Linked DNA regions of Homo sapiens. The protein of the gene in region 1 interacts with the protein of each later gene in a biochemical or structural test. Each region holds a gene or a part of one and is shown on either strand. Other genes may lie near its edges. The genes, in order: CDKN1A, DTL, GADD45A and PSMA3.

The links.
Region 2: of the proteins of CDKN1A (region 1) and DTL, one has a biochemical effect on the other in vitro, tested with the Homo sapiens proteins (3 studies listed by BioGRID, with this or other methods).
Region 3: the proteins of CDKN1A (region 1) and GADD45A form a complex in vitro, tested with the Homo sapiens proteins (3 studies listed by BioGRID).
Region 4: the proteins of CDKN1A (region 1) and PSMA3 form a complex in vitro, tested with the Homo sapiens proteins (4 studies listed by BioGRID).

What each region holds. Positions count from the first base shown.
Region 1 is NC_000006.12:36,681,714-36,689,368, reverse strand, and holds the end of CDKN1A (cyclin-dependent kinase inhibitor 1), read right to left. Parts: intron 5,273-7,655; coding exon of another isoform or gene 5,268-5,272; coding exon 4,823-5,267; coding exon of another isoform or gene 4,724-4,822; intron 3,918-4,723; coding exon of another isoform or gene 3,859-3,917; exon of another isoform or gene 3,619-3,858; coding exon 3,569-3,618; 3' UTR 2,037-3,568; downstream 1-2,036. UniProt on the Homo sapiens protein: Plays an important role in controlling cell cycle progression and DNA damage-induced G2 arrest. Involved in p53/TP53 mediated inhibition of cellular proliferation in response to DNA damage.
Region 2 is NC_000001.11:212,100,828-212,106,129, forward strand, and holds the end of DTL (denticleless protein homolog), read left to right. Parts: coding exon 1-257; intron 258-2,014; coding exon 2,015-2,113; 3' UTR 2,114-4,186; downstream 4,187-5,302. UniProt on the Homo sapiens protein: Substrate-specific adapter of a DCX (DDB1-CUL4-X-box) E3 ubiquitin-protein ligase complex required for cell cycle control, DNA damage response and translesion DNA synthesis.
Region 3 is NC_000001.11:67,680,303-67,689,163, forward strand, and holds GADD45A (growth arrest and DNA damage-inducible protein GADD45 alpha), read left to right. Parts: upstream 1-4,898; 5' UTR 4,899-5,192; coding exon 5,193-5,236; intron 5,237-5,722; coding exon 5,723-5,824; intron 5,825-6,047; coding exon 6,048-6,285; intron 6,286-7,358; coding exon 7,359-7,472; 3' UTR 7,473-8,032; downstream 8,033-8,861. UniProt on the Homo sapiens protein: In T-cells, functions as a regulator of p38 MAPKs by inhibiting p88 phosphorylation and activity.
Region 4 is NC_000014.9:58,254,843-58,263,378, reverse strand, and holds part of PSMA3 (proteasome subunit alpha type-3), read right to left. Parts: intron 5,635-8,536; coding exon 5,533-5,634; intron 5,455-5,532; coding exon 5,381-5,454; intron 2,432-5,380; coding exon 2,359-2,431; intron 1-2,358. UniProt on the Homo sapiens protein: Component of the 20S core proteasome complex involved in the proteolytic degradation of most intracellular proteins. This complex plays numerous essential roles within the cell by associating with different regulatory particles.

The DNA.
Region 1 (7,655 bases):
TCAGGAAAGGGGATCAAAAGTGGTTCACATCCACTTTCCCTACAACAATTTAGAGATCTATCAAATCATTAAAGTTTTAAGTGGTCAAATAAACTGGGGCATGCTGGGTCATTCCCTCTGTGGTAAAGGACAACTTAGTATATCTTGCACCTCTTACCATTTTTTTTTCTTTTTTTTAAATTATACTTTAAGTTCTAGGGTACATGAGCACAATGTGCAGGTTTGATACATAGGTATACATGTGCCATGTTGGTTTGCTGCACCCATCAACTCATCATTTACATTAGGTATTTCTCCTAATGCTATCCCTCCCCCAGGCCCCCACCCCCCTCTTACCACTTTTTAATTTGGGTTTCAGAGGCAGTGTACTAAAGATCACTCCAGCCCATTTATTGGATGATTTAGTAAGCTGCCATGTTTAAGCAGCGGCCGGAGCAAGAGAGGGCTCTGAAACAGGTGCAGGCTATGGGACAAGCACTTGGGTCACACGCCCCAGTGTATTCCCTGGTCCTGGACTTTTATCTGTGGATAAGTAGACAGTTGTGAAGTCCCTGGAAGTCCCCTCTGGCGGGGAGAGTCTCGTTTCAGAACTCTATGATTCTAGTAGAAAGCTCTGCCCTGTGCAGTAGAGAATTATTCCACATTTGAAAAGTAGTTCTGGGCCAAATTGCAGTGTTGGGAGCAAATAAATGATTATTGTTTTAAGCCACTCAGTCTTGGGGTGGTTAATTATGAATAGACAACCAGAAGATGCATGCAACAGCACCTTGTTTTTTGTAATGTTGGATAACTTTCCACTATATAAATATACCACAATTTGCATATCTATTCTGTTATGGACATTTCAGTTATTTCTAGCTTGGGTCTGTTAATAATAATGCTGCTGGAAGCATTCTTTTGGTTTTTTTCTTTTTGAGGGAGACAGACAAGGTCTCACTCTGTTGCCCAGGCTGGAGTGCAGTGGTGCAGTCAGGGCTCACTGCAGCCTCGACTTCCCAAGCTCCTCAAGTGATCCTCCCACCTCAGCCTCCCAGGTAGCTGGGACTACAGGCACGCTCCACCACGCCTGGCTATTTTTTTTTTTTTTTTTTTTGTAGAGATAAGAGTCTCGCTATGTTGCCCAAACTGGTCTCACACTCTTGGGCTCAAGCCGTCCTCCTGCCTTAGCCTCCCAAAGTGCTGGGATTATAGGTGTGAGCCACTGTGTAGAACATTCTTATGCCTTTTTCAGTGGAAATATGAACTCATTTCTCTCGAGAACATGTCCAGGAATAGAATTACTGGGTCATGAGGTAGCCATGAAGGTAGGCATCTTTAGAAGATATTACCAAACAGTTTTTTATTTATGTATTTATTTGAGATGAATCTCACTGTCACCCTGGAAGAGGCTGGAGTACAGTGGTATGATCTCAGCTGACTGCAACCTCTGCCTCCTGGGTTCAAGTGATCCTCCCACCTCAGCCTTCCAAGTAGCTGGGATTACAAGCGTGCACCACCATGCCCAGCTAATTTTTGTATTTTTAGTAGAGATTTCACCATGTTGGCCAGGCTGGTCTTGAACCCTTGGCCTCAAGTGATCTCCTGCCTCAGCCTCCCGAAGCACTGGGATTCTAGGTGTGAGCCACTGCGCCCGGCCCAAACAGTTTTTTTAAATAAGAGATCCAGTTGCTCCATAACCTTGCCAATGCTTGGCACTGTCAGTCTTTTTTAATCATTCTGGTAAGTGTATGGTGGTATCTTATTGTGGTATCTTAATTTGCATTTATCTGATGAATAATGATGTTAAGCTATAATATATTCTTTACAAAAAGATTACACAACAAACCAAAATATTGACATTGGTGATCTTTGCAGAGGTGTGACAGTAGTTTTTGTTTTGCTGTTGTTTTTTGCAGCAGTCTTTCTGTTTGCTAAGTTTTCTGCATTCTCTAAATTTAAATGCTTAATTTTTAAAATTATTTAATTATGAAATCCTTCCCAAAAGCCCATTTATTTGTTCTTATAAGGTATAATAACCACAATAGTAATATTACAAGTAAAGTCACTAAGAATCATTTATTGAGCACCTGCTGTATATTCAGCATTGTGGGAGGAGCTGTGAAAGACACAGAACAGTACAGGGTGTGGTCCCTGCCCTCGAGAGGTTTACAGTCTAGGTGGAGAAACGGGAACCAGGACACATGGGGAGCCGAGAGAAAACAGTCCAGGCCAGTATGTTACAGGAGCTGGAAGGTGTTTGGGGTCAGACCCCAATACTCCAAGTACACTAAGCACTTCAGTGCCTCCAGGGGCTCAACGTTAGTGCCAGGAAAGACAACTACTCCCAGCCCCATATGAGCCCACGTGGCATGCCCTGTCCATAGCCTCTACTGCCACCATCTTAAAATGTCTGACTCCTTGTTCCGCTGCTAATCAAAGTGCAATGAACTGGGGAGGGATGGGGTGGATGAGGAAGGTCGCTGGACGATTTGAGGGGCCAGTGTCTCCCTCCTAGAAAGATCTACTCCCCCATCATATACCCCTAACACAGAGATAACCCCACTCAAGGGGGCCTGTGCCACCACATGGGACCCTCACCCCCACAGCTAGAGGAGGGGGCGGTCGCTGCTTGAGCTGCCTGAGGTAGAACTAGGGTGCCCTTCTTCTTGTGTGTCCCTTCCCCTTCCAGTCCATTGAGCTGGGGGTGGGGGTGGGACAGGCACCTCAGAGCCACCTGGAGCTGAGAGGGTACTGAAGGGAAAGGACAAGGGGGAGGGACAGCAGCAGAGGGGAATTGCAGAGCCCAGCTGGAGAAAAAGGGTAGCTGGGGCTCCTCAAAAGGTACAGGGGAGCCAAAGAGGGAAAAGGCTCAACACTGAGACGGGCTCCCCAGTGCAGGTCAGAGGGGCCATGAGGGCAGGCGGGGTGGTCTGCTCCAGGACCCCACCTTCCCCCTGCCTTCACAAGACAGAGGGGGGTATCAAGAGCCAGGAGGGTACCAGGTCCCCAGCTCAGCCCTAGGCTGTGCTCACTTCAGGGTCACCCTGCCCAACCTTAGAGGAGGTGAGGGGACTCCAAAGTTTTTGATGATGCCCCCACTCGGTGAGGCCCCTTCAAAGTGCCATCTGTTTACTTCTCAAATGAAAAAGAATTCAGGTCTGAGTGTCCAGGAAAGGGGGTGAATTTCATAACCGCCTGTGACAGCGATGGGAAGGAGCCACACCCCTCCAGAGGGTACCACCCAGCGGACAAGTGGGGAGGAGGAAGTAGCTGGCATGAAGCCGGCCCACCCAACCTCCGGGAGAGAGGAAAAGGAGAACACGGGATGAGGAGGCTTTAAATAGTATTTCATAAAATAAAAATGCCCAGCACTCTTAGGAACCTCTCATTCAACCGCCTAGTTTTTGTTTAAATAATTCTAATGCCAGAGGCTGGGGGGCAGGGGGCGGCCAGGGTATGTACATGAGGAGGTGTTTAAATTAAAACACAAATAATAATTAAGACACACAAACTGAGACTAAGGCAGAAGATGTAGAGCGGGCCTTTGAGGCCCTCGCGCTTCCAGGACTGCAGGCTTCCTGTGGGCGGATTAGGGCTTCCTCTTGGAGAAGATCAGCCGGCGTTTGGAGTGGTAGAAATCTGAGGAGAGACAGCAGAAGTCAGCCAGGCCAAGAAGAAGAGGACGCGGCGGAGCTGCCCAACTGAGGAAGACAGTGGGGGGCCAGGACACCCTTCCCTGGGGCCAATGGGGCCGACTGCTGAGAACAGGAAGAACTCGGGGAACGTCCACTCTGTCTCTTGAGGGGTATTATGGAGTGTCCCACCATGCTTCACAGATGTGATTTTATCCATCACCGCACCCGCACCCATGGGTCTGCTCTAAGTCAAGCTGCCCAGCAGAGGAACCACTACTAGCTCTGTGTGCTTGTTTAAACAGACTACAATCAAATAAAATGAACAATTCAGTTCCTCAGTCACATGAGCTGTGTGTCAAATGCACAACAGCCGTATGTGGCTCGTGGCCCCTGTACCGGACACTCCCATCCCTGCAGAGTTACTGGACAGTGCTGATCTAGGGATTCTGTTACAAAATCCATGAAAGTGTTCAGCACAATGCCGGGCCCATATAAACGTCAGTAGTTGTTGTTATTATAATTAGTCTTGACCCAACGGCAAATTCACTTTGAGACCTTAGATAAATCACTCTACCTCTCTGAGCCTGGTTTCCTTGCCCTAAAAGGATGGCAAGGGGCTGGGCATGGTGGCTCACGCCTGTAATCACAACACTTTGGGAGGCTGAGGCAGGAGGACTGCTTGAGCTCAGGAGTTCAAGACCAGCCCGGGCAACATGGTGAGACCTTGTCTCTACAAAAACTCAAAAAATTAACCGGGCGTAGTGGTGTACAACTATAGTCCCAGCTTCCCAGCTACCCAGGAGGCTGAGGTAGGAAGATCGCTTGAGCCCAGGAGTTTGAAGCTGCAGTGAGCCATGATCGTATCACTGCACTCCAGTCTGGCCAACAGAGTTAAGACACCTGTCTCAAAAAGAAAGGCGGGCAGGGTGACAAGAATGTCTTATGTTATAACATTGCTATAAGGACTAAATAAATCTACCTTAGAAGCTTGGCAAAGGGCCTGGCATAATGAACATTCCCAATAAATGTTAGCTAGTTGGTCTTTGCTGCCTACTTGCTGTGTGACCTCAGGGAGGTTGCTTCCCCTCTCTGGGCCTGTTTCCTTCTACCTGGAGCATGCTGGACCAGGACCAGACAGGTCAGCCCTTGGACCATGGATTCTGAGAATCCTGGTCCCTTACAAAGTCCTTCCGTGCACATGTCCGCACCTGTCATGCTGGTCTGCCGCCGTTTTCGACCCTGAGAGTCTCCAGGTCCACCTGGGGACCCTTCAGCCTGCTCCCCTGAGCGAGGCACAAGGGTACAAGACAGTGACAGGTCCACATGGTCTTCCTCTGCTGTCCCCTGCAGCAGAGCAGGTGAGGTGCCAGGCCGCCTGCCTCCTCCCAACTCATCCCGGCCTCGCCGGGGCCCCGTGGGAAGGTAGAGCTTGGGCAGGCCAAGGCCCCGCACACGCTCCCAGGCGAAGTCACCCTCCAGTGGTGTCTCGGTGACAAAGTCGAAGTTCCATCGCTCACGGGCCTCCTGGATGCAGCCCGCCATTAGCGCATCACAGTCGCGGCTCAGCTGCTCGCTGTCCACTGGGCCGAAGAGGCGGCGGCAGGCCTTGCTGCCGCATGGGTTCTGACGGACATCCCCAGCCGGTTCTGACATGGCGCCTGCAGCAGAGATACAAGGAAGGCCCTGGTCACGGCGGAGATTAGACACTATGTTACCTGGCCGGGCTTTGCTGTGTCACCTCAGGTGACGTCTTCCTACCAGAGGGTCTCTCTCACTCCTTCCAGCTGGTCTTCCTGCTTCCTTCCCACAGGAGGCCTGACCCCCACCAGCAGAGCTCAGCCAGCCTGGCACACCAAGGTCACTGGGAGAGCAGGCAACTGAAGGGCAAGCTAATGTCAACAAAGGCAAGTCTATTGCAAGAGCAAGGACCAGGGTCCTGTTTGCCACCAGGTATTATCAGCTAAAATCAATTTGTTTTCCCCCCAGAGGTGTCCCTCATGGGTGTGAATGCCCCCCAAATATGTGTGAATTGCCAGAGTCCAGCAGTTTCCTAATCGCAGCCCTGGCCAGAAGGTCAATTCCCAAAAGAAGAAACAGTCTGACAGTTCCTCCAGCCTCCTAAGTCCCCCGACCCAGATCCCCAAGTAGGGTAACCCTGCTCTGCCAAGTAAAAGTACCCGGGACTTTGGGGCAAAAAGCACCCGGGTTGTGGTCCTAGCTCTGCCAGTTACTACGTAAGCTTTAAAAAGCCACTTAATGTCTCTAGGTCTCAGTTTCCTCATCCATAAATGGGGCCATGTACAAGTTTAAAGAGCATGGCTACAGACACATACTCAAGAAATTGATCACAGAGTCCATGCAGCAAGGCAGACAGAACAGAGCTGAATGAAAGGCTGTATCCTGGTGGTTAAGCAGGAGGGCTCTGGAGCCAGATCACCTGGGCTGGAGTCCAGGTTTTACTAGGTGACCCTGGGCAAGCAACTTAACTTGTCTGAGCTCTAGTTTCCTCATCTATAAAATGGGGATAGTAATAGTGACTGTCTCAGAGGATAGACATGAGAATTAACTGAGTTAATGTAGGTAACGTGCCAGCAGCACTTCGTATAGAGAAGTGCATTGAAAACAGAAGTATGATTATTCCTCTCTGCCTTCAGTTTTACTGAGCCTCCCCCCTATCACTTCCCCCTGCCAACTACCTCCTTCAGACAGCAGCTGACAGGTGCTGTAGGCTGAGGGCCTTTCCCAAGGATGTCGTCAGGCGGGTGGCCTAGGGGTAAGGAGGGGCCGGGCGGGGCAGCGCAAGGGATGATTTCTCCCAGGCTGAGCCACATCCTGCCAGGCACATCAGGTGATCTGAAGTCTAGACACCTGGCAGCCCCTGCCTCGTGTTGCCTGTGTCCAAGGAAACCGTTTTGCAGGCAAAAAGAAAATTAAAGGTGGCTGGTCTACCTGGCTCCTCTCCTCCCCCTTCAGGAGAGGGAAAACGGAGAGTGAGTTTGCCCATGAGGGAGCCCTGGCACCTACCTGCCTGCTCTGGCTTGACTCCAGGGCTGAGTGACTGCACGACCTTGGCAGCAACTGGATTTTCCTAGGGACAAGTCCCAACTTGCAGTTTCTGGGGGTGAAAGCTCTGCTGAGTCCTCATGAGGCAGGAAGCCCGGGACACATGCCACATCTGCTCCACCCCACCTCACCCCACTGCTTGTGATCAGTGGAGCCCACAGTTTCACGTCCCAGCTGGTTGGGAGAGGAGGCTCTTGGTAACTTCACACCAAGTTTAAAGGGCAGGAGATGGAAGAGATATGAGACTTGCCCCTGAGTCATACAGCTAAAAAGGCCAAAGGCCACTGCCCCATAAAGGGGTCACCCAGTACAGTGGACAGAGCCCTCAAATAACCTCTATCCACCCTCTGCTAGGCATGAGTTGGGATTTATTTATATATTTTTATGTTTGGGGGCTGTTCTAAGCAGTTTAAAAATATCAATCCTCCTAAAAAGTGGATATCTATTAGCTCCCTTTTTACAGAAGAGGCAACCAAGGCTCAGATAAGTTAAGTAACTTGCCTAACATCACACAGTTCATAAGTGGCACAGCCAGGATCTGAACCCAGGCCTGTTTGCCCTGAGTCCTGTGCTGTAGTATTGAACCCCACTCCCTCTCTAATTTTGAGGTTTCTTAACCAGAGAGGCCCATCACAATCACTTGGGGAGGCCAGGGGCAGTGGCTTATGCCTGTAATCCTAATACTCTGGGAGGCAGAGGTGGGAGAATCATTTGAGCCCAAGGGTCCAAGACTAGCCTGGGCAACTAGCTGAGACCCTGTCTCTACTAAAAATAAAAATAAATAAAAATTAGCTGGGTGGTTGGGTGCAGTGTCTCACACCTGTAATCCCAGCACTTTGGGAGGCCGAGGAGGGCGGAGCACGAGGTCAGGAGATTGAGACCATCCTGGCTAACACGGTGAAACCCCGTCTCTACTAAAAATACAAAAAAAAATTAGCCGGGCATGATGGCAGCACCTGTAGTCCCAGCTACTCGGGA
Region 2 (5,302 bases), on another chromosome or scaffold:
GAGCTGGTACCAGTATCTCAGAGCCTCCGTCTCCTATCAGTCCGTATGCTTCAGAAAGCTGTGGAACGCTACCTCTTCCTTTGAGACCTTGTGGAGAAGGGTCTGAAATGGTAGGCAAAGAGAATAGTTCCCCAGAGAATAAAAACTGGTTGTTGGCCATGGCAGCCAAACGGAAGGCTGAGAATCCATCTCCACGAAGTCCGTCATCCCAGACACCCAATTCCAGGAGACAGAGCGGAAAGAAATTGCCAAGCCCGGTAAGTCAGCAGTGGTGGGAAGATACATTTCCTAACTTAAAAGGGGCCAGACACCCAGATGTCTCAAGTCAGGATGCTTTTTTTTTTTTTTAAAGAAAGAAATCTATTTATTCCTAGTGCTGCCAAATTCAGCACATAAATACAAAACAAATTTTGCATGGGCCATATTTTTAGTAAAAATGTTTTATGCTAAGAAACTATTTTTGTTTGTCTGAAATTCAAATGTAACTGAATGTGCTGTATTTTATCTGGCAACTCTACTTACTCCCATTAAAATCCCTCCTGTCAGGGTCCATACTCCTCAGCCCTGTTGCCTGATTGACCAAAGCCTTCATCATGCTCCAGGATATCAATTCAAAAATATCTCCCCTCTCCTGTTAGACAGTATGCCATCCTCTTTTTATAGATAAAGCTGTTGTTCATGGGAAAGTTGCCAACATCCATAAGTAGATTTCCAGTTTGTAATTCCATTTTGTGATTATTTAAAATACAGTGAAACTTAGATACTTACAAAACAATTTGAGTGCAAAATCTTTCTAGATTTTTATGACTTCTCCACAATCTTTTATAATCATTTTGCCACACCACAGTAATACTTTTGACACCTATATCTATTCTTTTTAACATTCAGTGTAGTGTCACTTATCTTTTTAGGACTCATTTCATTGACTGACTTAATATTTAAATTAGATAATATCAGTCATCAGTGATTGATGGCAGAAATAGGTTTGTGAACCTTGAAAAACAAGATTCATTACAGTGGTGGAGGCAGAAGTAGCTGAGTGCATTGGGTGAGCTATGGGCACCAGTCAGAGAGAATAAAAAGCTTCTGTTGTTTGCATGTGAAGGGGAGATGGGTTAAGGAAGTTTCCACTGTACTTCACAGTAGCTCTTGTGGTGGCGGGATGATTGAAATAGAATCCAGAATCATGATCAGCATCATCTGCCATTTTAAAGGGCAGAAGCTAGATAACCAACCTTAGGCCAGTTTTAGTTTAAAAAGTGTTCATAACCCCGACCTGCTCTCATGAAGACCTATCCCATAATTTTAGAAAAATAAACTGATAGATTTTAAAGACAACTTAGTACACAAACTGCAATCAAGACCTTGCTGTAGAAAGTGGAGAAAAAAGACAGTTATAAGGAATCTTTCCTTCTCTCAAAATTATGACTGCTCTTTATCCCTAGCCAAAATTTCTATTTTTTTTTTCAAGGGAGCTGGTCTCAGCTATGTGTTAGCAGAAAAGTAGTTTCAATGAAAAACTATTTTCACTGATACATAAATCTTAAAATCTTTAAAAAGTAGAAACAGTGTGCTGGTCTTGTAATTTATTTGAAGCTAACATTTCTTAAAAATTTTTTACCTTTATATGATGATAATGTCAACCTTCAGAAGAGAGTAACATCTTCCATTTGAATACCTATCTTGTTTATAAATTGGGGGGGCTGATTTATTCATTTATTTCAAAAAGGATAGTAATTGTAACTTATTTGTTTCTTATTAGGAGACTTAGCTAGTAAATGTTTTCTATTCACATAAGAAGTCTATGCCTTCTTTCCCTACATATCATCTGTTAAGTTTTTACTATAGTCAGTACAAATCAGCCAAAAGAGACATTGCCATTGAAAGTATTTGGAGCTGAAAGCAGGCTAAACAATGAAATTTCTGGCAGCCTAATTTAAGGTATGCCTTAGTAATAACTTAGTAACAGTTGAACTTCAAGGAAATCTCTGAAATCTAAACTTTCTTCTTCTAGGTCACCATCACGCCCAGCTCCATGAGGAAAATCTGCACATACTTCCATAGAAAGTCCCAGGAGGACTTCTGTGGTCCTGAACACTCAACAGAATTATAGATTCTAATCTGAGTGAGTTACTGAGCTTTGGTCCACTAAAACAAGCTGAGCTTTGGTCCACTAAAACAAGATGAAAAATACAAGAGTGACTCTATAACTCTGGTCTTTAAGAAAGCTGCCTTTTCATTTTTAGACAAAATCTTTTCAACGCTGAAATGTACCTAATCTGGTTCTACTACCATAATGTATATGCAGCTTCCCGAGGATGAATGCTGTGTTTAAATTTCATAAAGTAAATTTGTCACTCTAGCATTTTGAATGAATAGTCTTCACTTTTTAAATTATTCATCTTCTCTATAATAATGACATCCCAGTTCATGGAGGCAAAAAACAAGTTTCTTGTTATCCTGAAACTTTCTATGCTCAGTGGAAAGTATCTGCCAGCCACAGCATGAGGCCTGTGAAGGCTGACTGAGAAATCCTCTGCTGAAGACCCCTGGTTCTGTTCTGCCTCCAACATGTATAATTTTATTTGAAATACATAATCTTTTCACTATGCTTTTGTGGGGTTTTTTTTAAGTATGTGTAAAAATGTGATGCTCAGATAAGTACATTTATATCAGTTCAGTGTTAAAATGCAGTCTCTTGAGTTAAAGTCATCTTTATTTTAAATGCAGTGATAAATGTCAACTCTTCGGAGAAACTAGGAGAACAACAACAGAAAGCTGTGTTTGTCTTTTTTCTCTCAAATATATCTCCCGTATGAGATTTCAGGTCCCCATGTTTTCACCAAGCAATCTGCTATGTCAGCCAACCCAACATCACTTTCTACAGGAGGTTATGATTTTTGCCATTTACTAGAGGAAGATGTTTTATGAAATCAATTTGGGGTTTGAATTCAGGTGCAGTCATCAGTTCTTTAGGGGCTGCAATGTTTTAAAAAAAATAAGTCATCAGATTTTAAGAAAAAAGTGATGATTTCTTATTGATATTTTTGTAACAGAATATAGCTCTTAACTGAAAATCCAGAACCAGAAACATAAATCTTGAGTTTCTTTTCATGTACATAAAAAGCAATAGCCTTTTAGTATAGATAGCCCTGAGCCAAAAAGTAATAGAATTTTCTCTAGATATTTAATACAGAGAGTGTATAGACTGACTCTAAGTTAATAATGTGCAAAATATCTTAAACATCCCTCCCCTTATTCAACAATTATGTATCAGTGATCTTGAACCATTGTTTTATATTTTTCACCTTTGTAACCTCATGGAAAGAGGCTTTACATACTTTCTATGTACTATTTACTTAGAAGGGAGCCCCCTTCCAGTCATGAAACTTCATTTGTTTTATCCATATCCCTGAGGACTGTGTAGACTTTATGTCAGTTTTTGTCATTATTTGAAAATCTATTCTGACAACTTTTTAATTCCTTTGATCTTATAAGTTAAAGCTGTAACAACTGAAATTGCATGGATCAAGTAAGCATAGTTTTATCCAGGGAGAAAAATAAAAGGAAGCCATAGAATTGCTCTGGTCAAAACCAAGCACACCATAGCCTTAACTGAATATTTAGGAAATCTGCCTAATCTGCTTATATTTGGTGTTTGTTTTTTGACTGTTGGGCTTTGGGAAGATGTTATTTATGACCAATATCTGCCAGTAACGCTGTTTATCTCACTTGCTTTGAAAGCCAATGGGGGAAAAAAATCCATGAAAAAAAAAAGATTGATAAAGTAGATGATTTTGTTTGTATCCCTACCCATCTCCTGGCAGCCCTACTGAGTGAAATTGGGATACATTTGGCTGTCAGAAATTATACCGAGTCTACTGGGTATAACATGTCTCACTTGGAAAGCTAGTACTTTTAAATGGGTGCCAAAGGTCAACTGTAATGAGATAATTATCCCTGCCTGTGTCCATGTCAGACTTTGAGCTGATCCTGAATAATAAAGCCTTTTACCTTATCTGATGTCCTTTTCTGAGCTTTTTGCATTACCTAGAAGCAGTCTACAAAAAAGAACTATAGTAGTCAAGAATCCCTTCTACTTGTTCATTAAAATGTTTATTCCCAAAGTTATAATCTATTTCAAGCTGAAAGAGCTTTTAATAAAAAACATCTTGCTTGGATCAGACTTTGAGCATTTAAGATGGCTTGGATTACTTGATAAAGCAGGGTGGAGTGATGTAGTTCTTTTTCTAAACAAGTATTTCCAGCACAAACTTTTCCATTTGAATACATTCCAAGCACTATTGCTAGGATCCCGTATTAGAGTTTGCTTTTGGCTGTTTCAACACGGGCCCTTAATTAAATTTTGTGAGGATGACTGATTAGTGTCTTCAAATGTCTCTTCATCTGGACTGCACATTTAACTGATGTTGGATCAAGACCATGTGTAGCTACTCTTGTGTTGAGGGTCAGCCCATTATCCCCATCCCCAGCCCTAACAGCTTAAAACAGCTTTAACTCCCATCTTGAAATTAGCCTATGGCCATGTTCATAACATAGGTAGTGTGTGGGTTCAACAAATGCTTTTTGAGAGCCTGTCATAGCCAACACACTACTGCTCTTAAGTCTGTTTTTCTGCTTTTCCTAGTCCCTAGTTCCTTTTACATTGCTCTTAAAGCAAAGGCCAAGTAGTCTAACAGAGAAAAATAAATTCCACAACTAAGATAGTGTGGGCAACATTTTACAAATGTGTGTCAGAAGACAGACTGAGTGAAAACATTGTACTAGAAAAACTGAGTTAATTTCCTCCCTATGGCAATTCAACACAAGTGGTTTCTGCTTCATAATTCCATAAAGGGCTAAATGTAGGCCCAGTTGAGCTCTTGCAGTAGATCTCATTGCTTCTCACACAGGTCTTCACAGGGAATTCTTTGCCTGCCCTAGGTTTGGATCATGCCACATTACCAATTAACCCATTACTCATAAAATTCTCAGGGATTATGGTAAAAAAATTGGATTATGCATCAGTTCTTTAGATATTGGTTGGAAGTTATAGGCAGGCTGAACACATTTTGTTGGACTTGAGTTAAGTTTAATGCTTTGATGCCTGGAATACGACCCCAGCTTGTTATAAGTTAACCATTTTGTTCCCTAAAGTGGTAGCAAAACCTGTTTTATTTCTGAGCTGTGTTTGAGTGCAAGCTAAAAAGTGTAGGGGTTGTTAAGAAATGATATAAGATAAATTCAGCCTTTAAAAAAGAAATCACCTGAGCATATTAAGCAGCTTGTTTATATTGGTATG
Region 3 (8,861 bases), on another chromosome or scaffold:
GAGGTGAAGGGAGGAAAGGCAAAAGCAGAGGGAGACCAGTTGTTACATTTTCCTAGGTGGGAGATGATGCTGGTGGTAGTGGTGATGAGAAATGGTTGAATTATTTTACATTTTGAAATGGAGCCTATAGGATTTACTGATGGACTGGATGTGGTTGTGAGAAAAAGGAATCAAGAATGACACCAAGGTGTGGGGGGCTGAACAGTGGGAAGAATGGAGTTGCCATTGACCTATTGTAGGCACAGATTTGGCCAGACAATCAGGAGAGCAACAATTGTCATTTTAAGTTTAAGATGCTTACTATATATTGATGCAGATATGATGAATAAGCGCTGAGGTTCAGAAGAGATGACTGACCAGGTTTGAAATATATTTGGGAGTCATCAGCATATAAATAATTAAGGCCATGGGACCATATGAGGTCACCAAGAGAGTGAGTACAGAGAAGAGGTATAAGCATGAGCTGTTAAGAAGTTAGGAAGAAGAAAACTTTGCAATGAAGTTGATGGGTGAATAGAATTGTTTCTTTTATTTCAGAGAGAGAAAACTCACAAATTGGCTGGGCGCAGTGGCTCACACCTGTAATCCCAGCACTTTGCGAGGCCAAGGTGGGAGGACTGCTTAAGCCCAGGCGTTTGAGACCAGCCTGGGCAACAAAGCAAGACCCCGTTTCTTTGGAAAATTTTAAAATTAGGCTGGTGTGATGGCATGTGCCTATAGTCCCAGGTACTCAGGAGGCTGAGGTAGGAAGATCGCTTGAGCCTGGGAGTTCAAGACTGCAGTGAGCTATGACAGTGCCACTGCACTCTAGTCTGGATGACAGAGGATGACCCTGTCTCAAAAAAGAAAAAAAAAAAAGCAAACTCACAAATCTGTTCAAGGTGCAAAAACAACCTACCAGTGGCCAATCACCAACTCAGACCACCTACTTCCCTCACCAGTGATTAGGCTACAAAGCAGAGACTCTCAGAACATTCCTCCCATGATAGAAGCCTTCTGATACGCACCGACAGAGAGGTGAGGGGTTAGGGGGTGTTGATCTTGAAGAATGTTCTAGTTAGTCTCTTCATCTGACTTCTCCACTGGCTGGGCCTTGCTTGGCTGGTGAAATGTGAGCAGCTGATGGCAGCACAAGGTGGCCAGCCCAAAGCTCAAATTAACACTATGATTACTACCATGATTCTTAATAGCTGAAGAGAATTTCCACAGGATAAGGATTTATTGAACACACAAAAAAGATGGCATTAAGAATATTATACTAGTTTTTTGTTGTTGTTTTTGTTTTTGTTTTGAGACGGAGTTTCAATCTTGTCACCCAGGCTGGAGTGCAATGGCACCATCTCGGCTCACTGCAACCTCCACCTCCAGATTCAAGTGATTCTCCTGCCTCAGCCTCCCGAGTAGCTAAGATTACAGGTGCCTGCCACCGCGCCTGGCTAATTTTTGTATTTTTAGTAGAGCTGGGGTTTCACCATGTTAGCCAGGCTGGTCTCAAACTCCTTAGCCAGGCTGGTCTCAAGCTCCTGACCTCAGGTGATCCACCCGCCTTGGCCTCCCAAAGTGCTGGGATTACAGGTGTGAGCCACCACACCTGGCCCCAACTAATTTTTGTATTTTTAGTAGAGGTGGGGTTTTACCATGTTGGCCAGGCTGGTTTTGAACTCCTGACCTCAGGTGATCCGACCTCCTCAGCCTCTCAAAGTGCTGGGATTACAGGCGTGAGCTACTGCACCTGACCAGGAACCTTATGATTTTTAACAAGAAAAAATAATACAATACAATTCTAGGTAGGTGGAAAATACATCCATCATAGTTGAACTGATCTTCTCCTTTGATGTGGACAATGATCTAATACTGAAATAACAAGCATTATATTTCTTTCAGATGTTAAAGCATTGATTGTTTTTTGAAAGAAAGAAAGAATAATTCTGCATTATGGAACCAGTAGTAGGAATGTATGTAGGATAAGCATGACTAAAATATCAAAAAGATCTTTAATATGCAAAGCAAGTAGCAGTGCTAAAATAATTGAACAATTCTTGAGTATATATTTCCATATGATTTCTAAATATAATCATTTGGTATCTTTACAAACATTACTACAAGAGCATTCTACTCCTGTGTACTTGGCAGTTGTCAGAGTTACCTGTAGTGGTTTTTAAAATGACATCACATATTGGAGTTATCACACTGATTATAAAGAAATATATATATATATATAATATTGATATAGGAAAATTTCTCTGATTTACCATTGACTATCAATGTCCTCCAGGACTAATAAACAGTTAATGATAAATCAACTATGTCCATTCTAATGTGTAACTACAATCTAACTGTGTAGCTAAATGCAGTTTTTACTTCCAGTCATGAGGCCCAACTTTGAAGATAATCACTGAGAAAACATTCTAGGTATACTCAGCAATCAGGCAAAATGATGTAACGTATCTGAGTCAGAAAGTATGACAAATGAATATTTTTGCATACTGGAAGCCCAAGCTTATCTCAGAGAAAATCCCCAAAATACTTGGGCAAATAACTTTCTGATGAAGTCAAATATAGCATGCAGTATAATTTTTGAGTGGAGGACTAAGCCTATAATAAGAAGTAACCATTTGATATCACATTTTTACTGGATATAGTCGACTTGGGTGGGGCACTTTAGGACTGTGGTTCATTTGAATTGGTGTAAACAATACACCGGTTCTACTGTCCTACAGCCTCCATTCAGATGACTGAAGTCATGGGACTTTCAGCATAGCTAGCTGATGACAGTGCATACTATTTTGTCCCAAAATCCAGTTCAAGCATGGACATACCAATAAGAGCCTAAGCTCTTTAAAGGCAAAGGACCAGGAATTGTACAGTTCTTGGTATAGAAGAAGACAGGCAAAAGTGTTTTTGAACTAACGTTAAATGTGCAATATGTTAGAATTCATGCAATGCACAGGACTGCAGGATTCTGATATCTTATTTAACTCTCAAATTCTATTCAACTCAATAAACCTTGACTGTGCTTCTACTAAATGCAGGTATTGTACTAGGAGCTGAGGACACCAAACTGATGAAGTCCTTGCTGTCAAGAAACTCACATGATTCCCTAATTCTTTGTCAGCTTGCTGTGATCACATTTTCTTCCCAAGAACCTCTAAGAAATGCCTAGTGGATAGAACCTTGGAGTTCCACGGAACATATTAACAATCGCCAAATGATGACTCAGGCTAGATTGTGTAATTCAGGTTTTGTCTGCAAAACTGAAAATGCTTCGGTAACCTACCTAAATTTCAATGTTGAGGAATTCTTTAAGAAAGACATCAAATGTTAAGATTTAAGGCATAGATATGAGATACATAGTCATGCTTAGGTGAATTATGCACTGACCATGACCATTTCTTTACTCAAATGTTGTCCATGGCTGACAACACAGTGAAAAAATGAGTGCAAAATGACAACTCAAATAAATGAACCAGAAAACCTATCACTTTTCTTTTCCACCAAATTAAGATCAAGAGAGCTGGAGAATATTTTGTCTAGAGTGATAAAAACATAAGGGTGCAAAACTTCCAGGTACCTTTGCAGAAATTACTTCTGTGACCTTTGGCTGTACAGCAACCTTAATAATGCAAGCACTGTTTTGAATGCAAGCATGTGGGAGCCATTTTCACCACTTTTGATGACTTCAGTAGGTTTAAGAAATGTTTTTGCTTTTATTGCATAAACCATAAAACAAAGGAAGGGACTTTTGAACTACTCAGTGAGAGTCTATATATTAAAGTTTGTTTTTCAAAAATGTGTAACTACCATTTGCAGTTTTAAAGGTCTGCTTTCCACCTACAAGTTGCCATTATCTCAAAGGTGAAATTTTAGCATATGACTAAAAACTTCCTATAGTTACAGCTTCATGATTCAGCATCTAACATCAATAATTCACAGTGAGATCATAGGAGGCTCTCTGTGGAAGGTAACGACATACATACGTTAGGAAAGGAAGCTTAGGGCATATCGAGAGCATTTTGAATTTAGACTTGTGGGCTGTGTGGGTGTCAGATGGTTGTCTCTCAGCTGGTGGGCGTCCAGAAGGATCCTTGTTTGGGCAAGGCTCTTTGAGAAAGGAGAATCTGGGTTGCCAGGGATTCCCACATGTGGTCACCAGCTCCCCACGCAGACCAGCTCACGATTTCCCAGTTACACCGGGCAGGTGGGAAACCGTTCTGCTTTCTGTGGAAAAGATTCTAACTTGGTTCCCTGCCATCCCTGAATACAAACGGGTTGGTTTTTCTTTTTTCAGCTTCCAACCCTTGCAGCTTTCCAAAAATAAATCAAACCAGCCATCAGGGCACCGAAATAATACTACTGCTAATAAGCAGCTTCGCCTAGACTTAGATAAACAACACTTCTGAGGTAAACTTTGCCCCGGAGGTCTGGAGACACTTTTTTAATGTAACCTGCTTACTAATAATTACTAGACTTCAGTGCATTAACCCTGGAAATAGATTTTAATAGCCACCCCTTAAAACAAAAGACATGAAAAGATAATAAGAAAAAAGTGCCGCAACTATTATAGAAAAACACTTGGCAGCCTGCTTCAGCCCAAGCTGAGGCCACCTCTAGCCTCTGCTAAAGCCCCCCACTCCCAATGGTCCCCGCCAACCGGATAAGAGTGCGCGCGGGACCCGCCTTCCCCTCTCGGCACCGCCCCCGCCCCCGCCCCCTCGGCTCGCCTCCCGCGTGGCTCCTCCCTTTTCCGCTCCTCTCAACCTGACTCCAGGAGCTGGGGTCAAATTGCTGGAGCAGGCTGATTTGCATAGCCCAATGGCCAAGCTGCATGCAAATGAGGCGGAAGGTGGTTGGCTGAGGGTTGGCAGGATAACCCCGGAGAGCGGGGCCCTTTGTCCTCCAGTGGCTGGTAGGCAGTGGCTGGGAGGCAGCGGCCCAATTAGTGTCGTGCGGCCCGTGGCGAGGCGAGGTCCGGGGAGCGAGCGAGCAAGCAAGGCGGGAGGGGTGGCCGGAGCTGCGGCGGCTGGCACAGGAGGAGGAGCCCGGGCGGGCGAGGGGCGGCCGGAGAGCGCCAGGGCCTGAGCTGCCGGAGCGGCGCCTGTGAGTGAGTGCAGAAAGCAGGCGCCCGCGCGCTAGCCGTGGCAGGAGCAGCCCGCACGCCGCGCTCTCTCCCTGGGCGACCTGCAGTTTGCAATATGACTTTGGAGGAATTCTCGGCTGGAGAGCAGAAGACCGAAAGGTGAGTCGGCCTGCGGACTCTTCCGGCCCGAACTTCTCTTACCTACCCCGCGCTCCCCGGTGCAGCCGGGCTGTGGAAGGCTTGCAGGGGAGGAAGCTAAAAAGTTTGCACAGGGCAACTCCCGCCCTTGCTCCCTCGGGACTCTCCGTGGAGCTCCCACGGACTGAAAGAGCGTGCCCCCCAACCCGAACGAGCCCCGCCGGGGCCTTTGCAAAGGGCAGCAGTGGCCGTCGCTGCCCGTGCGGCTCCCGTGGCTGGCAGCCTGTGGCAGGGGCACTCTCGGGACTTCTCACGGGACGCCCGGTCCTTGGGCGTGCAGGGGTCATGGGGGGTGACGGGGCCGCGGGAGCGCCGGGTTTTCGTAGAGCCCAGGTGCGCGGTGGTGCTTGCATTCGAGAGGGAGGGGCGTGGTACCGGACGAGGGGGGCGGCGATGGCCCCGAGGGCACCGGGGCTGACGGGACCCCTCGCCCTTGCCCGCGTGTAGGATGGATAAGGTGGGGGATGCCCTGGAGGAAGTGCTCAGCAAAGCCCTGAGTCAGCGCACGATCACTGTCGGGGTGTACGAAGCGGCCAAGCTGCTCAACGTGTAAGTGGGGCCCTTGCGCGTCCCCCATGGCACCCCTTCCCGCCCCAGCCCGGGAGGTCGCCTTGGCTGGGCGCCCCTCGCCCGGCCGCGCCACTTCCTGTCGCTTTTCTGCCTGTCTCGGAAGGGAGGGGGCGAGCGGGCCGGGCGGCGACCCCCAGGGACCCGGGCAGTGGTTGAGGGCGCCCGCGCTTCTGCGCTCACTGGCCCCGCCCGCTGCCCCCAGCGACCCCGATAACGTGGTGTTGTGCCTGCTGGCGGCGGACGAGGACGACGACAGAGATGTGGCTCTGCAGATCCACTTCACCCTGATCCAGGCGTTTTGCTGCGAGAACGACATCAACATCCTGCGCGTCAGCAACCCGGGCCGGCTGGCGGAGCTCCTGCTCTTGGAGACCGACGCTGGCCCCGCGGCGAGCGAGGGCGCCGAGCAGCCCCCGGACCTGCACTGCGTGCTGGTGACGGTAAGGGACTGGGGGACTGCAGCCTGCAGGGTAGAGCCCCGGAAGGACGGGAGTCAGGGCTGGGTTGCCTGATTGTGGATCTGTGGTAGGTGGGGGTCAGGAGGGTGGCTGCCTTTGTCCGACTAGAGTGTGGCTGGACTTTCAGCCGAGATGTGCTAGTTTCATCACCAGGATTTTCTGTGGTACAGAACATGTCTAAGCATGCTGGGGACTGCCAGCAGCGGAAGAGATCCCTGTGAGTCAGCAGTCAGCCCAGCTACTCCCTACCTACATCTGCACTGCCTCCCGTGACTAATTCCTTTAGCAGGGCAGATTAGATAAAGCCAAATGAATTCCTGGCTCACCCCTCATTAAGGAGTCAGCTTCATTCTCTGCCAGTCAGAGCTAAAAATAGAAATTGTGTAGGAGACAAACCTTGTTAATTCCCTAGAAATACATTAAGAGGATAGAGTGGAATTTTTTTTCTCTGCAATCTTGCATTTTTTTAATGGCTCTTTTTTTTTTTCCTGATAAAAACCTTTGGTAGGTAGGGAAGTTATGTTTTCAGGGGTAAATGTGCTACTTTTGTCTTCTAAATTTTGCTCTTTTTTGACTGGTCTAGTCAAGTGACAGCCCGATTATTTTGCTACTCCTTAAAAGTACTATTCTGTCTCTTGGAGTATGGTTGATGGCAATTCCAGTTAACTGCTGTGCAGCTCTCATCTCATTGTGCACACAGCATGGAAATCTTTCTCAAAACTGTTTCACTCAGGTCAGGGTAACAAGTTTGGTAGAGCAAACCGGTGAATGATACTCTCATGCAAAACTGAACAGATATGCAAACATATGTATGTGGTTCAGCTTGGGTTGCATGGGTTCAGACTTTGCAATGTGTAGTTTAATAGGTAATTACCCTTAACGCTTTTGCAGGGAACCCAACTACCTTGAAGAAACTTTAATTTTTTTGTGCTTCTAATTTGTCTCCATGTCACATAGCCAAAATATAGAATGTTCAAGTGTTTTCTCCTCAAAAGTATAATTACTAGAATATACTGGTTTTTAAAATAAGTTTATTTTTATAAATTTGTTTCCAGAATCCACATTCATCTCAATGGAAGGATCCTGCCTTAAGTCAACTTATTTGTTTTTGCCGGGAAAGTCGCTACATGGATCAATGGGTTCCAGTGATTAATCTCCCTGAACGGTGATGGCATCTGAATGAAAATAACTGAACCAAATTGCACTGAAGTTTTTGAAATACCTTTGTAGTTACTCAAGCAGTTACTCCCTACACTGATGCAAGGATTACAGAAACTGATGCCAAGGGGCTGAGTGAGTTCAACTACATGTTCTGGGGGCCCGGAGATAGATGACTTTGCAGATGGAAAGAGGTGAAAATGAAGAAGGAAGCTGTGTTGAAACAGAAAAATAAGTCAAAAGGAACAAAAATTACAAAGAACCATGCAGGAAGGAAAACTATGTATTAATTTAGAATGGTTGAGTTACATTAAAATAAACCAAATATGTTAAAGTTTAAGTGTGCAGCCATAGTTTGGGTATTTTTGGTTTATATGCCCTCAAGTAAAAGAAAAGCCGAAAGGGTTAATCATATTTGAAAACCATATTTTATTGTATTTTGATGAGATATTAAATTCTCAAAGTTTTATTATAAATTCTACTAAGTTATTTTATGACATGAAAAGTTATTTATGCTATAAATTTTTTGAAACACAATACCTACAATAAACTGGTATGAATAATTGCATCATTTCTTATTGTGTGCTCTTGTTTCTTTTAACTTGTACTTTATTAAACACATTTTACTGACGCTTTGCTGTATACCAGGTCTATAATCAGAAAGCAGGTGATTTAAAGGAGTTGGAGTTGTCAGGAAAAAGGGATGGTTAGAGATTCAGCTTGCAAAATTTGAATAATTAAAGATAAATGATATTAGCGCCGTAATAAGATTATACACAAAATGTTGAGGAGGCAGAGAGGACAGAGTGACTAAAGTTACCTACCAGTTTTTACTGAAGAGAGATCATTTTATGTTGGTCTTAGTGAGTTTTATTTCCCTAGTTACAGAGGGCAAAGGGATATTGCTAGCAGCTGCATTAGTTTGTGCAAAGGTGTGGAGGCCTGAAAGACCACAACCAGGTCAGTAAAAACAGAGTGATTGTGTGTGTGCCTCTGGTGTAGAAAGATAAGGGAGCAGCGGGGCTGAAAAGGAAGGTGGGGATTAGGCCCAGGCTGTGAAGGCATTCTGTGTTACCCTTATGCATTTGGGCTTCCTTCTGTAAACTTCAGGCAGATAGCGGAGCCCCTGAAGGAAGTGGCATGATCAGTGTTCTAGGAAAGTAACACCGGGGTCTGTGAAAGATGATTATTGGGATGAGCAGCTGTAGGTGACAAGGCCAGTTAGGAAGTGACTAAGAATCCAAGGTTGTGCATTTTGCAGAACCATTTTTACAGAGCAAACAGGGAAGTGGCCAGGCAAGGTTTTTTGCTGCCCCTAGTCTCTTCCTAAAGCTTTGTGCTTTCCAGCTGAACATTTCTATGGTTCTGAGGGGTCTGCTTAAATTCTATCAGATGGAATA
Region 4 (8,536 bases), on another chromosome or scaffold:
CTGAGAGACAGAAATAAAGTTAATTCCTATGAGTTCAGTACTCTAAACCCCCAATTTTATTATTTTGTAAATTTTTTTAAAGATAAGGATGCACAGCTGGGTGTGGTGGGTCATGCCTGTAATCCCAGCACTATGGAAGGCCAAGGTGGGCAGATCACCTCAGGTCAGGAGTTGGAGACCGGCCTGGCCAACATTGTAAAACCCTGTCTCTACTAAAAATACAAAAAAATTAGCTAGGTGTGGTGGCAGGTGCCTGTAATGCCAGCTACTCCAGAGGCTGAGGCAGGAGAATCGCTTGAATCTGGGAGGCAGAGGTTGCAGTGAGCTGAGACCGCGCCACTGCACTCCAGCCTGGGCAACAGAGTGAGACTCCATCAAAAAAAAAAAAAAAAAGGATGTACACATATATACTTCTGTTACAGCAAAATATATTTAAGAATCTTCATTTTCTTCAATTAGTAAAAACGACAAAAATGTAAGGATAAGAAAACAGTTAAGAAACGGTAACAGGCCGGGTGCAGTGGCTCACACAAAGTGCTTGTAATCCCAGCACTTTGGGAATCTGAGGCACGTGGATCACTTGAGGCCAGGAGTTCCAGACCAGCCTGGGCAACATGGTGAAAGTCTGTCTCTACTAAAAATACAAAAATTAGCCAGGTGTGATGGTACAGGCCTGTAATCCCAGCTACTTGAGAGGCTGAGGCACAAGAATCCCTTGAATCCGGGAGGCAGAGGTTACAGTGAGCCAAGATTGCACCACTGCAGTCCAGCCTGGGCAACTGAGCAAGACTCTGTCTCAAAAAAAAAAAAAAATGGTAATAATTTAGGGAAAGCTCTTAGAAATCACATTTAAACCTTCTCTTTAAAAGGGAAGGCAGGGCAAGGTGGCTCACACCTATAATCCCAGCATTTTGGGAGACCAAGGTGGGCGGATTACTTGAGATCAGGAGTTCGAGACCAGCCTGGCTAACATGGTGAAACCTCGTCTCTACTGAAAATACAAAAATTAGCCGGGTGTGGTGATGCATGCTTCTAATCCCAGCCTACTCGGGAGGCTGAGGCAGAATTGCTTGAACTGGGGAGGTGGAGGTTTGGCGCCACTGCACTCCAGTCTGGGTGACAGAGCGAGACGCTGTCTGAAACAAAATTAGGTCCGGCACTGTGGCTCACGCCTGTAATCCTTGCACTTTGGCAGGCCGGGGTGGGCAGACCACCTGAGGTCAGGAGTTGGAGACCAGCTGGCCAACATGGCAAAACCCCATCTGTACTAAAAATACAAAAATTAACCAGGCATGGTAGTACATGCCTGTAATCCCAGCTAATCAGGAGGCTGAGACAGGAGAATTGCTTGAACCTAGGAGGCGGAAGAGGTTGCAGTGAACCAAGATCGAGCCACTGCACTCCAGCCTGGGAGACAGAGTGACACTCCATCTTATAAATAAATAAAATAAAAGGGATGACATGGCTGGACATCGATGCTCACGCCTGTAGTCCCAGCATTTTGGGAGTCCAAGGCAGGAGGACTGCTTAAGGCCAGGAGTTTGAGACCAGCCCTGGGAACGTGGAAAGACCTTGTCTCTATAGACACCAAAAAAATACAAAAATTAGCTAGGCATGGTGGCATGAGCCTGTAGTCCCAGCTACTTGGGAGGCTTAGGTAGGAGGATCGCCTGAGCCCAGGAGTTGAGAGGCTGAAGTGAGCTATGATTGTGTCACTGCACTCCAGCCTGGGCAAGAATGAGGAAAAAAGACATTAAATACAGTTTTAAGACAGTGTTTATAGTAATAAAGGAAAATCACATATTCAAAATACTATATGCACTATACAGTTTCTATAAATAACATACTGAAAAAAAATCTTTCCTCTGCCTCGTATCAGTTATTAATGATAAGAAAACATGGCTGGGCCTGGTGGCTCACACCTGTAATACTCGCACTTTGGGAGACCCAGGTGGGTAGATCTCTTGAGGACTGGAATTCAAGACCAGTCTGGCCAACATGGCAAAGGCCTGTTTCTACTAAAAATAAAAAAAATTAGCCAGGTGGTGCACACCTGTAATCCCAGCTACCCGGGAGGCTGAGGCAGAAGAACTGTTTGAACCTGGGAGGCAGAGGTTGCAGTGAGCTGTGATCACACCACTGTGCTCCAGCCTGGGCCACAGTGAGACCCTGTTCCCCCAAAAAGGAAAAAAAAAAAAATTCTGTTGGACAAGAGGTTGTTGTAAAAAAAAAAAAAAGAAAAATTACTTTCCTTGAATGAGTTTTTTTTTAATTTCATATAATCTTATAATGAGACTTAAATGCTAATGAAATACCATTAAACTAAAATAGAATTTCAAATGATTCAAAATTACTCACGTATGAAACACCTGATGGGTCAATCATGTAGAGTTGCGCACCGTCATTCACACTGTAAGACCCTAACATGAAACTGCATGAAAGTATACAAACAGCTTAAACCATGGCAATAACATAAAAGTATTTGTGAAAAAATTATTTTAAAATGCAGTTATATTTTCTTTCTGAGATAAATTACTAATACACATATAACTCAGTAAGTACTTTGAAACAGTGGTTTCAATTAATTAAAACTATTACATGAGATTATTCAAAATTCATGTAGCTTTTGTTTGTTTAGTATTAATCTTTCTGATGAAGGTCTCCTGGAAAGTCTAGCAGTACAGGGAAAGGAGTAACGATAGATGAAAACCACAACTATGAGAGGGCCCAATAAATAAGGCATAAACACAAAAAGATCAAGGGAACAAAATTCCTGACGGAGAGTATACTGAATCCATGTGAAATTCTTTCCACCCTTCATTCTATTTCCCAATATCCTGCCAATCATTTCTCTGCAATAATCAGAATTGGTTCAGTGTATTTTTCTGTGCTCAACAAATTAGGCTATTAGCTGATTGTATGAAATACTGATTTTCTGAAATTGTGACATACAGTGGGCACTGTTTCCATGAGTTCTGCATCTGTGGATTCAACAAACCACAGATAGAAAACTTTCAAAAAACATTGCTTCTGTACTGAACAACTGTGATTTTCTTGTCATTATTCCCTAAACAATACAGTGTAACAGCTATTTACACTGTGTTAGGTATTGCAAGTAATCTAGAGATGACAACATACAGGAGGATATGCACAGGTTATATGCAAATACTTAACCATTTTATATCAGGGACTTCAGCAACCTTGGATTTTGGTATTCATGGGAGGTCCTAAAACCAATCCCCCACAAATACCAAGGGACAACTATATTTGCCTTAGAGTAGAAAAGAAATCAGCAGCATCTTACACATCATCTTATATGCGGAATATTTTAACTATTCAATTCCCATCCCTACCGTCATTTCCTTCCATTTTCTACCGATATGAGACTTATCCTTCAGGATATATAGCTCATTGTCACTATTTTAAAGCCTTTCAACATTTCTTTGAAGAAAATCAGCATGGAGCACAGACTTTTATATGACTGGACCCCTTCCTACATCAGTATCATCTCTAAACCTCATACTCTACACACCAAGCATACTTAACTCTCTCTGGCGCACGTATTTTCATACCAGTTCCTGTGCTTGCAACTACCAAGTCTCCCTACATCTCACACTCTTCCTTGCCTCCTGTCCAGAAAGAGTCCGTTCCCTAATTGTTGTCCCTTTATCATATCACTAATATTTTATCAATGTGACTTCACACCTGTGTCTCCACATTTATGACTAACTCAGTGCCCAATAGATGTTTACTAAAAAAGTTCTCTCTGGCCCAGTGCGGTGGCTCACGCCTGTAATCCCAGCACTTTGGGAGGCTGAGGTGGATCACTTGAGGTCAGGAGTTTGAGACCAGCCTGGCCAACATGGCGAAACCCTGACTGTACTAAAAATAAAAAAATTAGCCGGGCGTGGTGGCAGGTGCTTGTAATCCCTGCTACTCAGGAGGTTGAGGCAGGAGAATAGCTTGAACCCGGGAGGCAGAGGTTGCAGTGACCTGAGATCGTGCCACTGCATTCCAGCCTGGGCGACAGAGCGAGACTCCATCTCAAAACAAAACAAAACAAACAAAAAAAAAGTTATGAAAAAAAGTTATCTCTACTATTCTTACTCCCTTAAAAAGAGTAGAGAAGTTAACTGATGAACTCAGAGCTCAGTTGAAAGGTATTTTACATGGTCTGAAAACAAAGTGTTTCATAATGTAATTTAACTGAGAAGCTTAAGAATGACTAATGTCAGCCTGGGCAGCATGGTGAGACCCCGTCTCTACAAAAAAAAATTTTGTTAATTAGCCAGGCATGGTGGCCCATGCCTGTGGTCCCAGCTACTTGGGAGGCTGAGGTAGGAGCATCGCTTGAGCCAGGTCAAAGCTGCAGTCAGCCATGATGGCACCACTGCACTCCAGCTCAGGTGACAGTAACTGTCTCAAAAAGTAAAAACAAAACCCTAATGTAATATTACCAATAGAATAAAACTCAAGTTTTCTTTAATATCTTAGTAATTAAATATGACTGATGATAAACAACTCAAAGGTAGGACTACAGCTGAGCACTCAGATGTTAGTATATGTATTATTTTGACCAAACATGTTTGACTGTTTTAAGTCATAAGCCAAACATGTCTTTTCATTTTAGAAAAATCTAGTCACAAGTCTTCTCTGTGAAGCCAAATTTGAATATTTATACCTATTCCAGGTCTTTATGCAGCTGAATCTCCACTTTACCCCACAATAAAATATCAGCACTTCAACAGAAAGAGAAACCGTGCCTAATGGGAATTGTGAGACGTAATTTTTAAAATTACCTAAGAATATCAGGGACTAACACCGAGAGCTTATTATAATCAGATTAAAGTCATTGTTATCAGTTCCTTGTTTTATAATCACTTCAGATCTATATAGTCCTTTTCACTATTGAAACCTTTTTTTTTTTTTTTTTTTTTTTTTTAAAGAGGCAGAGTCTCTATTGCGCCAGCTAGAGTACAGTGGTATGGCCACAGCTCATTCCAGCCTTCAACTCCTGGGCTCAAATGATCCTCTCAAGCAGCTCCTAAGTAGCTGTGACTACAGGCATGTGATACTGCACCTGGCTAAATTTTAAATTTTTTTTGTAGAGATAGGTTCTCACTGCGTTGGCCAGGCTGGTCTCATACTCCTGGGCGCGAGGGATCCTCCCACCTCAACCTCCCAAAGTACTGGGATTACAGGCTTGAGCCATGGCACCCAGCCTCAAGTAGTTTCTATGTACACTGTTTTATTTAATCATTGCCCTAATACTTATCGACGAGTTTCTATTTTTAAGTATGTAAAAGGCTAAGATGCTGGGGAACATAATAAATATCTATAGTACAGATCTGCCTTTTGAATAATTCACAAAATTTCTTACCTGCAGCCAAAAGGTCTAACAGCACTGTAGAGTGTATATGCATGCACATACATGGCCACTCTGTCTGCAAGATGCTATGGAGGGAAGCAGAAGAGCTTATTAATAAACTTCTATTACTGTCCAAAAGGTTCCTCAATATGTTATCAACTTACTTTTAGTGGAATGTTGTAGCCAAAGTTAGATCTGAAGTTGGAAGCTTCTTCTCTTGCTATGTCTGCTAAAGAACGAGCATCTGCCAACAAACCTGCTACTGCCTGAAAAAAAAGCACCAATTTACTAGAGGAACACATTCCTATCACAAATCAAAGTCTGCAATTAATAAAGACTTATTAAACATTTTTTTAACAAGTATTACCATTCAAAATAAACTTTTTTGGCTTAAAGGTCTCTCTACAAGGCATTTTGATGCTTGAGTATGAAATTATAATTTAGAAATTTAGTAAGTATAACTTCATTGCTTTGTCCAATGTTCATATTCAGGACATTTCCTTTTTTTTTTTTGATACGGGGTCTCGCTCTGTCACCAGGGCTGGAGTACAGTGGCATGATCTCCGCTCACTTCACACTCTGCCTCCTGGGTTCATGCCATTCTCCTGCCTCAGCCTCCTGAGTAGCTGGGACTACAGGCGCCTGCCACCACGCCCGGCTAATTTTTTTGTATTTTTAGTAGAGATGGGGTTTCACCATGTCAGCCAGGACGGTCTTGATCTCCTGACCTCGTGATCTGCCTGCCTCAGCCTCCTAAAGTGCTGGGATTACAGGCGTGAGCCACCGTGCCCGGCCAATATTCAGGACTACTTCTATCATAAATCCTCTTCCCCTGATTTACTACCACTACCTCATTATAACGAATAAAAACCATGGGTCTTGGTCAGATTTTTTTTTTTTTTTTTTTTTGAGACAGAGTCTCACTGTGTCACCTAGGCTGGAGCACAATGGCACCATCTGGGCTCACTTCAACCTTTGCCTCTCAGGTTCAAGGGATTCTCCTGCCTCAGCCTCCCCAGTAGCTGGGATTGGCTAATTTTTATATTTTTAGTAGAGACAGGGTTTGGTTTTGTCATGTTGGCCAGGCTGGTCTTGAACTCCTGACCTCAGGTGATCAGCCTGCCTCAGCCTCCCAAAATGTTGGGATTATGGGTGTGAGCCGCCGTGCCCGGCCCAAATTTGTTCTTTTCTCTAAAGTTATTACAGGTTGAGGATATCTAATCCAAAAATCTGAAATTTAAAACGCTTCAGAATCTGAAACTTTTTGAGTGCCAACATGACACTCAAAGGAAATGCTCAGGCCGGACCTGGTGGCTCACACCTGTAATCCCAGCACTTTGGGAGGCTGAGGCAGGTGGATCACAAGGTCACGAGTTCAAGACCAGCCTGGCCAAGATGGTGAAATGCCGTCTCTACTAAAAATACAAAAATTAGCCAGGCGTGGTTGCAGGCACCTGTAATCCCAGTTACTTGGGAGGCCGAGGCAGAGAATTGCTTGAACCTGGGAGGCGGAAGTTGCAGTGAGCCGAGATCGCGCCACTGCACTCCATCCTGGGCAACAGAGCGAGACTCCATCTCAAAAAAAAAAAAAAAAGGAAATGCTCAGTAGAGCTTTTTGGATTTTGAATTTTCAGATTAAGGATGCTCAGCTGATGAGTATATAATGCAGATATTCCAAAATCGAAAAATATCCGATATACTGCTGGTCCCAAGCATTTTAGACGAGAGATACTCAACCTGTAACTGTTTTGTTCTAAAAGGCACAATCGCAAATCTTTTTTCAGCCTATTGGCTGAATAAACTACAATGATAAACCATTCCTCTTTCAAGATTTGCGGCTTAGAACTGCAGTTACTAGGCCGGGCACGGTGGCTCATGCCTGTGATCCCAGCACTTTGGGAGGCCGAGGCAGGGGGATCACCTGAGGTCAGGAGTTTGAAACCAGCCTGGACAACATGGTGAAACCCCTACTAAAAATACAAAAATTAGTCAGGTTTGGTGGCGGGCACCTATAATCCTACCTACTCCCAAGGCTGAGCCACAAGAATCACTTGAACTCGGGAGGCGGAGGCTGCAGTGAGCCGAGATCACGCCACTACACTCCAGCCTGAGCAACAGAATGAGACTTTGTCTCAAAACAAAAACAAAAACAAAAACAGAATTGCAGTTACTATGTATGTGCCGAGAGGTCCTCAGGCACTGCAGTGAAATCACATGTTAGTGTGGCATATCTTTTTTTTTGAGATGGAGTTTTGCTCTTGTTGCCCAGGCTAGAGCACAGTGGTGCAATCGCGGCTCACCGCAACCTCCACCTCCCAGGTTCAAGGGATTCTCCTGCCTCAGCCTCCCGAGTAGCTGGGAGTACAGGCATGCGCCACCACGCCCGGCTAATTTTTGTGTTTTTAGTAGAGACAGGGTTTCTCCATGTTGGTCAGGCTGGTCTTGAACTTTCGACCTCAGGTGATCCGCCCGCCTTGGCCTCCGAAAGTGCTGGGATTACAGGTGTGAGCCACTGCACCTGGCCTAGTGTGGCACATTCTAAGTTTGGAGAAAAATGTCCAAGTAGTTCCGTTTGAACATTAGATCGTTTTACTACATTCCTTTCAATGCCACCACATCTTTGAGAAGCTTGGCTGTTAGTGGTTGCTGTGAAAAAAAGTAAGTACTGTGCAAAAATCAGTGTGGAACAGGAAATGACAGTGGCCACATCCAAATTTGGGAGGTTGTGCAGTGTATATACTAGAAATTTTGGTTGCTTAAAATAAAACATTTTAATTTTTAAATAAAAATATTTTTCACTATGTGTGTATTTAAAAAAAAAAAACGGCTACTAAGTTTTTAGGATGTAAACACTAAGTTCTTTGGATCTAAATACTTAATAAATGAAACCATTAGGTATTTTCGGCCTAGGGAAGCCATGAGAAAAACTACTGAGACACTTAAGGTACCATAAACCAACCAAGTTTTTGAAACCCTCTAGCCCAGGACAGTTACAGAATTTAAAAGTGGTATCACAATCTTTAATAGCCTTTTTTTCCTACGCTACCCAGTAATAGTAATAATGATAATTACTAAGAGATACTGAGCACTCATTACATGTTAAGCATTTTGCATAATAATTTTTAACCTCACAACAACTGTATGTGCCAAGTACTATTATCACTCTTG